Linked DNA regions of Homo sapiens. The protein of the gene in region 3 purifies or fractionates together with the protein of the main gene of each other region. This does not show direct contact. Each region holds a gene or a part of one and is shown on either strand. Other genes may lie near its edges.

What was found.
Region 1: the proteins of EPS8 (region 3) and AMPD2 purify together in Homo sapiens (affinity purification with mass spectrometry; 2 studies listed by BioGRID and IntAct, with this or other methods). This does not show direct contact.
Region 2: the proteins of EPS8 (region 3) and ITGB1 purify together in Homo sapiens (pull-down; one study listed by IntAct). This does not show direct contact.

The regions. Positions count from the first base shown.
Region 1 is NC_000001.11:109,622,764-109,626,416, forward strand, and holds part of AMPD2 (AMP deaminase 2), read left to right. Parts: intron 1-1,265; exon of another isoform or gene 1,266-1,326; intron 1,327-2,539; coding exon 2,540-2,670; intron 2,671-2,898; coding exon 2,899-3,029; intron 3,030-3,396; coding exon 3,397-3,465; intron 3,466-3,555; coding exon 3,556-3,653. UniProt on the Homo sapiens protein: AMP deaminase plays a critical role in energy metabolism. Catalyzes the deamination of AMP to IMP and plays an important role in the purine nucleotide cycle.
Region 2 is NC_000010.11:32,899,666-32,903,025, forward strand, and holds the end of ITGB1 (integrin beta-1 isoform 1A precursor), read right to left. Parts: intron 1,971-3,360; coding exon 1,905-1,970; 3' UTR 653-1,904; downstream 1-652.
Region 3 is NC_000012.12:15,667,388-15,671,040, reverse strand, and holds part of EPS8 (epidermal growth factor receptor kinase substrate 8), read left to right. Parts: intron 1-117; coding exon 118-185; intron 186-1,215; coding exon 1,216-1,377; exon of another isoform or gene 1,378-1,381; intron 1,382-1,504; coding exon 1,505-1,654; intron 1,655-3,653. UniProt on the Homo sapiens protein: Signaling adapter that controls various cellular protrusions by regulating actin cytoskeleton dynamics and architecture. Depending on its association with other signal transducers, can regulate different processes.

The DNA.
Region 1 (3,653 bases), on a different chromosome or scaffold from region 3:
GGGGGTTGAGATTTGAGCCTTTGACTCAACTCCTGCTGACCCAATATGAACCAGCCATGGAGGTCTGTGGTCGGCCTCCCCTAGAAGGAGTCAGAAGTGGTCTGGGGCCATATGTAGGGAGGAGGTGTGTAAAATCAGGGTTCTCGGGCAAGAAAAGATCTTACACTCTGGGGGTGAGACAGCTTCCCCTCTTTTCTTCCTCTTCCCACTTTGTCCTTTTCCAAGTAAGAGATAGAGTCACCCCATCTCCACTCCTGCCAAGTTCACTTCACTGCCCTTTACTGGCCTATTGCCTTTGCCCTGCACTGGGCCCAGGGAACCTCCCACTGTCCTCAGTGGGCGGGGCTACAGGTAGAATGTATTTTGAGGGTCCCAGGAGTTCATAATTGCAGGCCTTGCCTCAACACAGAGCCTGGTGTTTTGCAGAACACTTGCAGAGCCATTATCTCTGTGAGCCTTATGGCAGTTGTGGCTAGGCAGGGAAGGGACCACTTATCGCCCCACTTGTAGATGAGGACCCAAAGCCTCCCAGAGGTAGGTAGAGACATGCCCGGAAGCAGGAACAGAATCAGATCCATGTTCTCCAAATTCTAGCCCCCTTTCTCCCAAACTTATTCTGGACAGTTTGTCCTGTCCCTGATGATAGGCTTGGATCAGGGGTTGCAGGTCTAGGGGCCTGCGAACCAGCCCCCTGAGCAGCTGGGCAGCGGGGAAGCCTCAGTGACTGGCCCCTACCTAGACTGGGCCATTTCCCCAGCTGCCAGCCAGCTCCTACCCCAGCAAAGGCCCTGTCTCTCCTGAGGGATGCCATAATCAGGGCCCAGAGGACAGTGGTGAGCAACAAGGCCACTGCCAGAAGAGGCCAACCTGGGGCTGTGGGTGTGATGAAGAGCGCTGTTCCCCTCCTTTTTCTCCCCTCTTACTCTTTGGCCAGCCAGGCCCTGCCCACTCACTGTCCCCTAGGGCAGTGGATTTTAAGGAGGCTTGGCTCCTCCCTGTCGGCCTGCCCTGCCCAAGTCAGCCTACCCTGCTACTCCCCCTTAGGAGCCTCACATCTGGCTGGGTCTTCCCTGGCACTGTAGAGGTGGAGGCCCTCTTCAGTTCTGGAGTTCGTCTTATCTCCCAACTCTGATGCTCCTTCCCTTGGTTTCTGGGCTCCCTTGAACTCCCCTAGCTCCGTGCTCACGGCCATCTCAGGGTCTCCCCTGCTTGCAGCTGCACTTGGTACAGCCTGTGCCAGCCCCTGAGGGACCGGCTGCAGCTTCACTGGCAAACAGGCGGGCAAGGGGCACAGGGCTGCTGGCCGGAGCTGCCTGCACTCTGCAGGTAGGGTTCAGGCAGGGGCCGGGGTGCGCAGGGGACGGGGTCCTGGATCTGGGGCAGGCCCCTCCCTCTTCCCTTTGTCCAGCTTTGGGACCAGTCCTGGAGTATTGGGAAATGGGCGCAGAGACTTTAAGGCCGGCTACCTAGGCAGATCCTGTAATCCTTCCCTAAGCCAGGGTGGAGGGTGCTGGAGGGGAGCACTCCTTACAGCCGGCTGAGAGAGGCAGTTTGGGTGTGGAAAGCTTCTCACTGAGGAGCTGGGGCTGCTGAGCCCAGGGAGGGTCCTTCGGGGTAGGCTGGAAGCCTTGGCAGCCCCCATAGACCAGCAGCTTCACGGCCCTCTGGTGCCAGCCTCCTCGTGGTACAGATGGAAAGTCTAGTCTTGATGAAGAAAGACCCCTGGCTTCTGACACTCCCTTCCCCAGGGCCCTCTGTGGTGCCCCCGGTCCAGATCCTGGGGCCTGAGTGGCATAGACTGTTTGTGGCAGCTCCTTTTGGAGGGGCAGGCTAAGGCCAGGCCACATTTTGGCAGCCCTGGGGCCCTGGGGGACAGGGCGGGCCTCCAGGGAGGAGGTAGGGTTCCCTTGCCAACCAGGCCCTCCACTTCCTCTCCTCTTCCCTTGAGGGCTCGTCCCTAGGTCAGAGCTGAGCAGCAGCTGCGGCTTCTCTTGTGCTGCACAGGTCTAGGATGTCAGGCACAGGGCCCTGCCCCTTTGAGTGGAGAATCTGCTAGTCCAGGGGCGGGTCTGATCCTGGGTTGCCTGCCCTGGGAGCTGCAGGCTGGGGGTCCCTGGTGTGGCCGCCTGGTCCTTACCAAGCACCTGGTGTGTGTCTCTGAGGGTGTCTGTGTGCGTACGTGCATGTGTGTGCACACGTACACACGTGCACCTGCCTCTGGGAGGTAGTCACGTGGAGATTCTCATGGCCTGAGGGATCAGGCTCTAGTCTCATTTGTGGAGGTAATGAATCTACTTGTTCTAGGGGCAGACTCAGAATCCCCACCCCAAGCCTGGAATGGGTGAGGGGTCCCTGCGTTAGAGGTGAGGGTGAGCCCTTTGGGAGCCACACACACAGGCCTACTCCTCAGCTACTGAGGAGGGACTGCCCTCTTTCCCGACCCTGGGCTCTCTCGGGAGCTGGCCTAGGCAGGGCAGGGGCCCAGGGCTTTCAGGGGCTGCCCCTCCACCCTTTGACCCTGGCATCACTGTCTCTGCAGAGGCTCGGGGTGGTCTGGGGGCCCCTCCGCTGCAGTCTGCCCGATCCCTGCCGGGCCCCGCCCCCTGCCTCAAGCACTTCCCGCTCGACCTGCGCACGTCTATGGATGGCAAATGCAAGGAGATCGCCGAGGTATCACCTGGCACCACCCGCACCCTCACCCCGTGTCTCCATGCCCTGCCTCTGCTCCCCACACCCCTCACCTCAAGCTGTCCCCTCACCTCACGCTTGGCTGTCTCCTGATCCTCAGCCTCTCCCAGGTACCCCTGGTCCTGCTGCCCTCACCCCATCCCCAGACTCTGTAGGAGAGTGCCCGAGGGCGGAGGGCCAGCCATGCTGACCTTCCTTCCCTCCCCCCAGGAGCTGTTCACCCGCTCACTGGCTGAGAGCGAGCTCCGTAGTGCCCCGTATGAGTTCCCCGAGGAGAGCCCCATTGAACAGCTGGAGGAGCGGCGGCAGCGGCTGGAGCGGCAGATCAGCCAGGATGTCAAGTGAGCCCGGCAGGCAGCTGCTTAGTCTCCCTCCATACCCTTCCAGACCCTTTCAGAGCCCCTTTTCTGCCTCTTTCCCTCGCACCCTGCCTTGGGGGGTCTGCACAGGGAGCATAGAGTGGGCTTTGGAGTCGGGCTGCTGGGTTCTGTTCTGTCTTCTAGCCGCCGGTGTGGCTGGGTCATGTTGCTTAACTTATGGGTCTGCTTTCTCATCTCTAAAGTGAGTGAGAACAGCACAGGGTTCTGCAGCTCTGCCTTTGAGGATCACATGTGACAACATGTGCACAGCACCTAGTGCGGTGCTGGGACCTGGGAGCAAGGGCCGTCCCTCGGGATCTGCCTGACTTCTCACCCCTCTTGCCTCTAGGCTGGAGCCAGACATCCTGCTTCGGGCCAAGCAAGATTTCCTGAAGACGGACAGTGACTCGGACCTACAGTGAGGAGGGCAGAGGGGCACAGGGGATGCGGAGCTGCAGCCTGCCCTTCTGCCGGCTCTAAACCCCTCCCTTGAATGCACCCCCTGCAGGCTCTACAAGGAACAGGGTGAGGGGCAGGGTGACCGGAGCCTGCGGGAGCGTGATGTGCTGGAACGGGAGTTTCAGCGGGTCACCATCTCTGGGGAGG
Region 2 (3,360 bases), on a different chromosome or scaffold from region 3:
GGATGGTGGAAAACAAGATGAAACAGGGTGACAGAGAGTAATAAATACAGATAATTTTTTTCATGGATCTTACAAACTACTAAAAATGTGTAATTCTCACCTCAAATATGCTTTAGTCTAAGCTATGAAACACATTTAAATGGAGTAAGTAAAAGAAGATTAACAGGATGTGAAGGGATTGTATAAATGTGAAAGGCTAGTAAGGCTGAAACTTTTTCTCCTCCAAATATTTCTGACATTTGTTGTATGCTTAAGAAAGCAGCATATATTTCTTCTAATAAGCTTTACACAAGTAGTACTTATGGATATATCCTTTCAAACAGAAACCAAAGCCAAATAAAAGTAAAATTTTTCCTAATTTTTCTTATCAGAAAAGTTAACAATCCCCTATCTATATCTTAAATAAAATGATACAATTTCCAGCACCTACTAATGGCTCTAAGATGTTCATAAAGTTAATTCTGCTTAATATTGGGATGAAACCTCTCTCCCAGCGTAGCAGGATAAGTAAGGATCTATCCACCATGATTCAGAGAGCCCAAGGACAGTCTTCAAGTCTGTATTTCACCATACCACTCTCCTTATGTCCCTAGTACATTTTTTTAAAGAATTATGTTTTAGCTTCATAAGTGAACTACCCACCAACCAGAAATGCTTTTCCTCAACTTCTTTAATCTATAAAAATTTCATGCACACAACCTGATAAAATACATCAGAGTCAAGACATCCGATTTAAGTATTTTAGGCATATTTAATAAATAACTTCAGTAAATAGCACTGTAAAAAGTGAACTGTTAAAACTAAAGGCACTTAAAACAAGAATGTGACTAGTGTGAAACAAGATGGGCAACTCAAATGGTGAGAAGTAAACATACAGTGGTCTGTTATGGCACTAACTCAAAGTAAGACTCGCGTAGGTGAGAGCTGTTGCATAGCCACAGTATAACTTCACATGTTCATTAAAAAGGCAAATTGACCGCTAAAACTTCAAAGAAAAAGTACTCATAAAAAAAGTCTTACCCCAAAATTGCAAACAAATACATTAAAAGATTAGAAGAGGTGACAGAAAGCACCAGACATTAAACAAAATAAAAATAATAAAATAAATTCAACTCAAAAGGTCCCCATTCAGCAAATACTTTGTAAAGTATGGCCTGTATGTAAATAGTGCTAAATCAAGGACTTTTTAGCAGAAAATTGCTCGGTTCTTTTATCTAAGGCTTGAATTTGTAAAGTGAAGGCATAAAAGTTACCAAACATTAAGTAACTCTTAAAATGGCACACAGGTTTTAAAGCTATTGGTTTTTCCTTCCTAACTCTCTGAATTTTTCCCATGGCCTTTGTAGATCAACTATTTCAAACGTATTTTACACCAGCAACTCTCAACATACTTGTCTTTCAGATATGTCATCAGTCATGTCTAACAGGCAAATAGCAAAATAACAGATTTAAAACAATCCTTAACTAGCTAGCAGGACATTTACTTTGGATTCTGCATAACTGCAAACTGACATATTTGTAAAGCTAAAAATCAGTTTTAATACATGATTAACAGAAACTCTCATCATGCTCATTACTTTAACTATTGCCCTTTCAATCGCTATAGAAATATCACTTAATCCAATAAGCTTGATTTCAATAGTCCAGGAAGAAAAGGTCAAAAAGGCACAATGTGACCTTAGCTGACAAGAGTAACCATCCTGTCTCAAGTCTTTTGTCAGTCCCTGGCATGAATTACAACATTATTTTCAAAATAATAAAACATTTTAAAAATTATACATATTGTACATTTTCAAAACCTGCACATGAGTAAAACCATGGCAATATTGCCCTAAAGCTACCTAACTGTGACTATGGAAATTGCTACTTTGCATTCAGTGTTGTGGGATTTGCACGGGCAGTACTCATTTTCCCTCATACTTCGGATTGACCACAGTTGTTACGGCACTCTTATAAATAGGATTTTCACCCTACAACAAAAAAAAAGTGAGAAAAATTATCAGTTACCCTACTAAAATTATGTAGAATAATTTTTATAAATCAAGACTAAAAGTTGCAATCATCTTAAGAAGTCATTTCTATTTTATTTGTCCAGATATCACAGTTGTTTTAAAGGCATTAATAATGGTTTATATAAAAATAGAAAATGGAAGCTTTGCTTTACAAGTCTAATGATGCCCCGTTATCTGGTGCTATTTCATTCTTGAGTCCTTCCTCCACTGGAGGCTTGATTTAAGAATGTTCTCCATGGCACAGAATGTGCTGTCATCGTGGATTCTCTCCTCTGAACTAGTTTGCAATGCCTGCCTTAATGAAGCATGAACTCCGCTGCCATCACTGCCTGATTCTTATCCCTTTATCGTGAACAGAAGGCGCCTGCTAATCAAAACGGGAATCCTCGGCTTTCACTGCTGGGAGGGAGGTGTGCTTCTGGGGTCTCCTACGGAAGTTACTAATTTAGAGAGTAAGGCTGTCATTGTGTCAGGGACAGCACTGCGCCCCACCAAGTCACACTGCCAAATTTGCTTAGAATGTTAGATAATTACCATTCCTTATGAAATAACTTGTTATGCTTCAATATCATATTGGTGAAATGTCTTATTGCAGTGCTATAATTTAGTAAACAGTACTGAAGTCAAGCCTAGCAAGCAGGCCCCAAGCCATAAACACAAGAGATCTTTCAAGATCCAAAAATATACTGACAGTGATGTTTTAAGCAGAAAAAAACATATCACTGTATCACCCTTTTCCTTAAAAATTCTCTTATACTATAACTGCTACATTTAAATACTTGCTATAGCATTCTTTTTTCTCCTGTTCTTATAAATTGAAAGCAGGCTTGAAAGCCAAGTGAGAAGTGTGACCAAATAACACTTAATCAGAGAAAATTACAGTGAGTACAAATAAAAAATACTTGTTAACTACCAGGGAAATTTTTTTTAAGAAAAAATTAAGATTTTGGAATGTTGTTCAGTTTTATATCTCACTATAGAACCAACTGCAGGTGATTTTTAAAAAAATATTTATAGAAAGCATCTAAAACATTTTTTGATCTAAAAGTAATTTTTGTTTTTAAATTTTATTCACACTTCATTGCAGACTGTATTTGGATCTGCCTTTTGGTGGCACAATTTCTGCCCTCAAGGAAGGTATAGTTTGGTGGGTGAGAGACATGAAAATAAGGCACTCTGATGAAGTTTACAATAGAGTTATGAACATAATCTGGGAATAGTATAAGAAAAAAGTTATTAACTTTAAGAAGATTAAGGAGATTTTCATTGTGAAATTGACTAGAAAAATTATTGGTTGGTAAATAGCAATCTATGCAAAGTCAAGGTGTAGGGAAAAGAATGGGACATT
Region 3 (3,653 bases):
GTCAGCTACTGTATTTATATGTGAGATAGACTAGTTTTAGAGATAGCCACATGATACCAACATATGAACTTCAGTCTATTAGGGGACAAATCATGGCTTTTTCAATTTCTCTTTCAGAACAAAGGAAGAATTATGCACGGGACAGTGTCAGCAGTGTGTCAGATATATCTCAATACCGTGTTGAAGTAAGATGCTTTGGTGTTTGCTAGTATTTAGAGTGACCCTTGAGGAACATAAAAATTGGAAGTTAAATCAGAATTCTGTTTTATTTCATTCTTATGATGTATTTTAAGTTGCATTGACCTTTTTGTTTAGATTTTTTAAAACAGATATTACATATAAAGTATCTTGTTAGTCTGTGGTCTATTTTCATAAAGAATGATTTAAAATCATAACTACTATCCATTTATCCTTGCCAGTCTTATTTCACTTATAATAGAATAATGGCTTTTACTTTGTACTATAGAATCTTCTTGAAATTAAGCCTTTGCTAGTTTCAGTGAGCAATTTAGTTTTTAGTTTAACTAAAGTTATTGCCAGTTCTAGTTAAATAATGGTTCTTTTTTAGTTTTTGCCCTCTTTTACGATATTTGCTCTTGATTGGAATTTATCTGGTTGACCTGTGCTTATAATAGAAAATATTTAAGCAGGGAAGTAATTTTTAAATTGCTCTTATTTTCAGTTTTCTACCTATGTCAAGCATGCTTAATCAAATTTAAACAGTTTTGTTTCAGTAAGTGGTTTTAGTGGATTGAATAGTTTGACAGTTCCTATAGACTAGAATTGTGCTGTTGCTACAATCAGTGTCCATAGTTTTGAAGCTCCCATACAGATAGCCTGCTGTTTAAATGCTGCTATGTTCAGCATTTAAATAACCATAATAGAGTGTCAAATAGGGGAAAGTTTATTTTAAGAGAATATTATTTAAGCTGTTAAGAATTTGTTTTAATGTCATGTTTATGTAGTTCAACATGGCTCCGTATGAAACAGATTTAGGTATCTTATGAGTCAAAACACCATTTCTTCTATTCAAAAAAAACCTTGGTTGGCTTTATTCTCTCATTAAAATAGTCATGAAGTTTTAAGAGTACTTTGTGTTTGTCGTTCTCTGCTAGCTGACCTCAGGTTATTTGATTTTCTTTTGGAAAATGTATACTAAGAGGTTGTATGTGTTTGTATGTGTTATAAATCTTTTTCCTTTTTGCCAATTGTAAGCACTTGACTACCTTTGTCCTGGATCGGAAAGATGCTATGATCACTGTTGATGATGGAATAAGGAAATTGAAATTGCTTGATGCCAAGGGCAAAGTGTGGACTCAAGATATGATTCTTCAAGTGGATGACAGAGCTGTGAGCCTGATTGATTTAGAATCAAAGGCAAGTGTGTAAAATTTATACTATTTTATTTTCAAGAAACTCCACAAATATTAATGTTTACAATCATTTCAGATTGTTTGAAAATGGATGGAAGTTTGACAAAATAAAATGTTCACTTTATTTATAGAATGAACTGGAGAATTTTCCTTTAAACACAATCCAGCACTGCCAAGCTGTGATGCATTCATGCAGCTATGATTCAGTTCTTGCACTGGTGTGCAAAGAGCCAACCCAGAACAAGCCAGATCTTCATCTCTTCCAGTGTGATGAGGTTAAGGTAAAAGAATGGTGAAATTTTTGTTTCTTCTTTAAGCAGATTGTCTGGGAGCTTTTGAATTACCTATTTTGATAATATATCTGCATATTAGTTACTAGATTTTTAGTTTCTGAGCATCTCGTAAGGAAAACAAATACCTTAGTATCTTCTCTAGGATTTCCATGGCAAGTAAATAAAGAAATTAGGGTGATGTTAATCAAATCAGTAGTTCACACTTGTAATCCCAGTGCTTTGGGAGGCCAAGGCTGTAAGATGGCTTGAGGCCAGGGGTTTGGGCCCAGCCTGGACAACATGGCAAGACCCAGTCTCTACTAAAAAGGTTTTAAAAATTAGCTAGATGTGGTTGTACACGCTTGTAGTCTCAGCTACTCAGTTGGCTAAGGGAGGAAGATCTCTTGAGCCAGGAGTTGGAGATTACAGTGAGCTATAATCACCCCTCTGCACTCCAGCCTGGGCAACAGATTGAGATTGTGTCTCTTAAAAATAAGATGCATTCTGTTTATTTTTTTAAAGTGTAGATAATATATTAAATTCACATCAAATGCCTTAAACTTATAATTAAAAATTGATTGTTCAGAAATCTTGCTTTGTGGACAGTAAATAATCATGTAATTTGAATTTATTCTGCACTAATGACATAGCATGGATTACTGCAATGAAGTACTTAGACATTTCCCACGATATTGATTTAAAGTTCACCATTTAATTATGTGACTTGATTCATTGCTCAGGATTTGTAATTCCCAGATGATATGTGAAAATAGTTGAGCCAGTAATAACAGGCTATATCCTGAAAGTTTCTATTTCAAAGTACAGTGTAATTTCAAATGATTATAATTTGTGATGCTTTATTGGACCTTAGAAGTTATCTTCAACCTTGAATGTGTTTATTTCCTCAGTTGTTTTCTTTAAAAGAGAAATCATTTTGTGTTAATTGGTACTTTGCCAAAGCAGTGATTTAACATTTTGATGATATATTATAAAATATCCATGTAATTTTATTTTATAAAGAAACTCTAGGAGATTAGCACAGTTACTTGATCTTTTCTGTGTTTTTTGACATTTAAAGATGATAGATAAAGTAAGATTGACTGTAAACTGTATTTTATAATTTTCTTCTAATTTCAATTTACGTCATGGATGACTTTCTAAAAACCTTCTTCTAAAAGAACTGGCATTTAGGTAATTTGTGTAAGTGATATTCATCAGATTTTTGTATAGTGCCTTTTGAAAGTCATAGTATATTATAATTTTTGTAAGGTTAGATATATTCAGTCAATAAATATTAAAGGGAATATTTTGCTTTAAAAATATAGTGAAATTTAATTCAAACATTTTTATAAACCAGAGGCCTAAGTTGAAAAACATTTCAAATTTGATGTTTGTATCTGTGTTCTAAAAAGCCCCCCCCGGGAGCTAAAAGTTACTATGCTGTGAAAAGTTTCTGGATTTTAGGTTTGGGAACAAATGGCTTGCTTTACTTGATATGGAATGGTAATGATAATGGATTCAAAATGTATTTACTGAATATAGTTTTGTCCTAACCCCAAAAGCTCACATACCACGAAGCACTGTATGCATTTACTCATTAGTTTCATACTCTGCATATGAGACATTTTTCGCTTGGCTGGTTAAAAATATAGAGGCAATGAAAAACGCAGTTTCTTTTATATGGCTCATTGTGCAATATTGCTTTTGATTTTTAAAGTTTCTTTATTATAGGACTTCATGCAATGCTCCTGCCCACCTTTGCAGTAAAATTTTTCTTAGAAATATAATAGCCCCAGTATAAGAAGTTGAAGATTCCTAGGCATCTTCAGTTTTCATTTTGGGTTTTTTTAAATAATTATTTTTAATTAAATATCTTTTCATCTTCAGTTTTAGTATCCTATGTAACAGAAAGCCTTTGACACGATATTTGTAATGTCTTATTGAAACTAAATGCTCTTAGGAAGTCACACTGGACTGGGATGCATTGGCCTCTCATTTAACTAGCAAT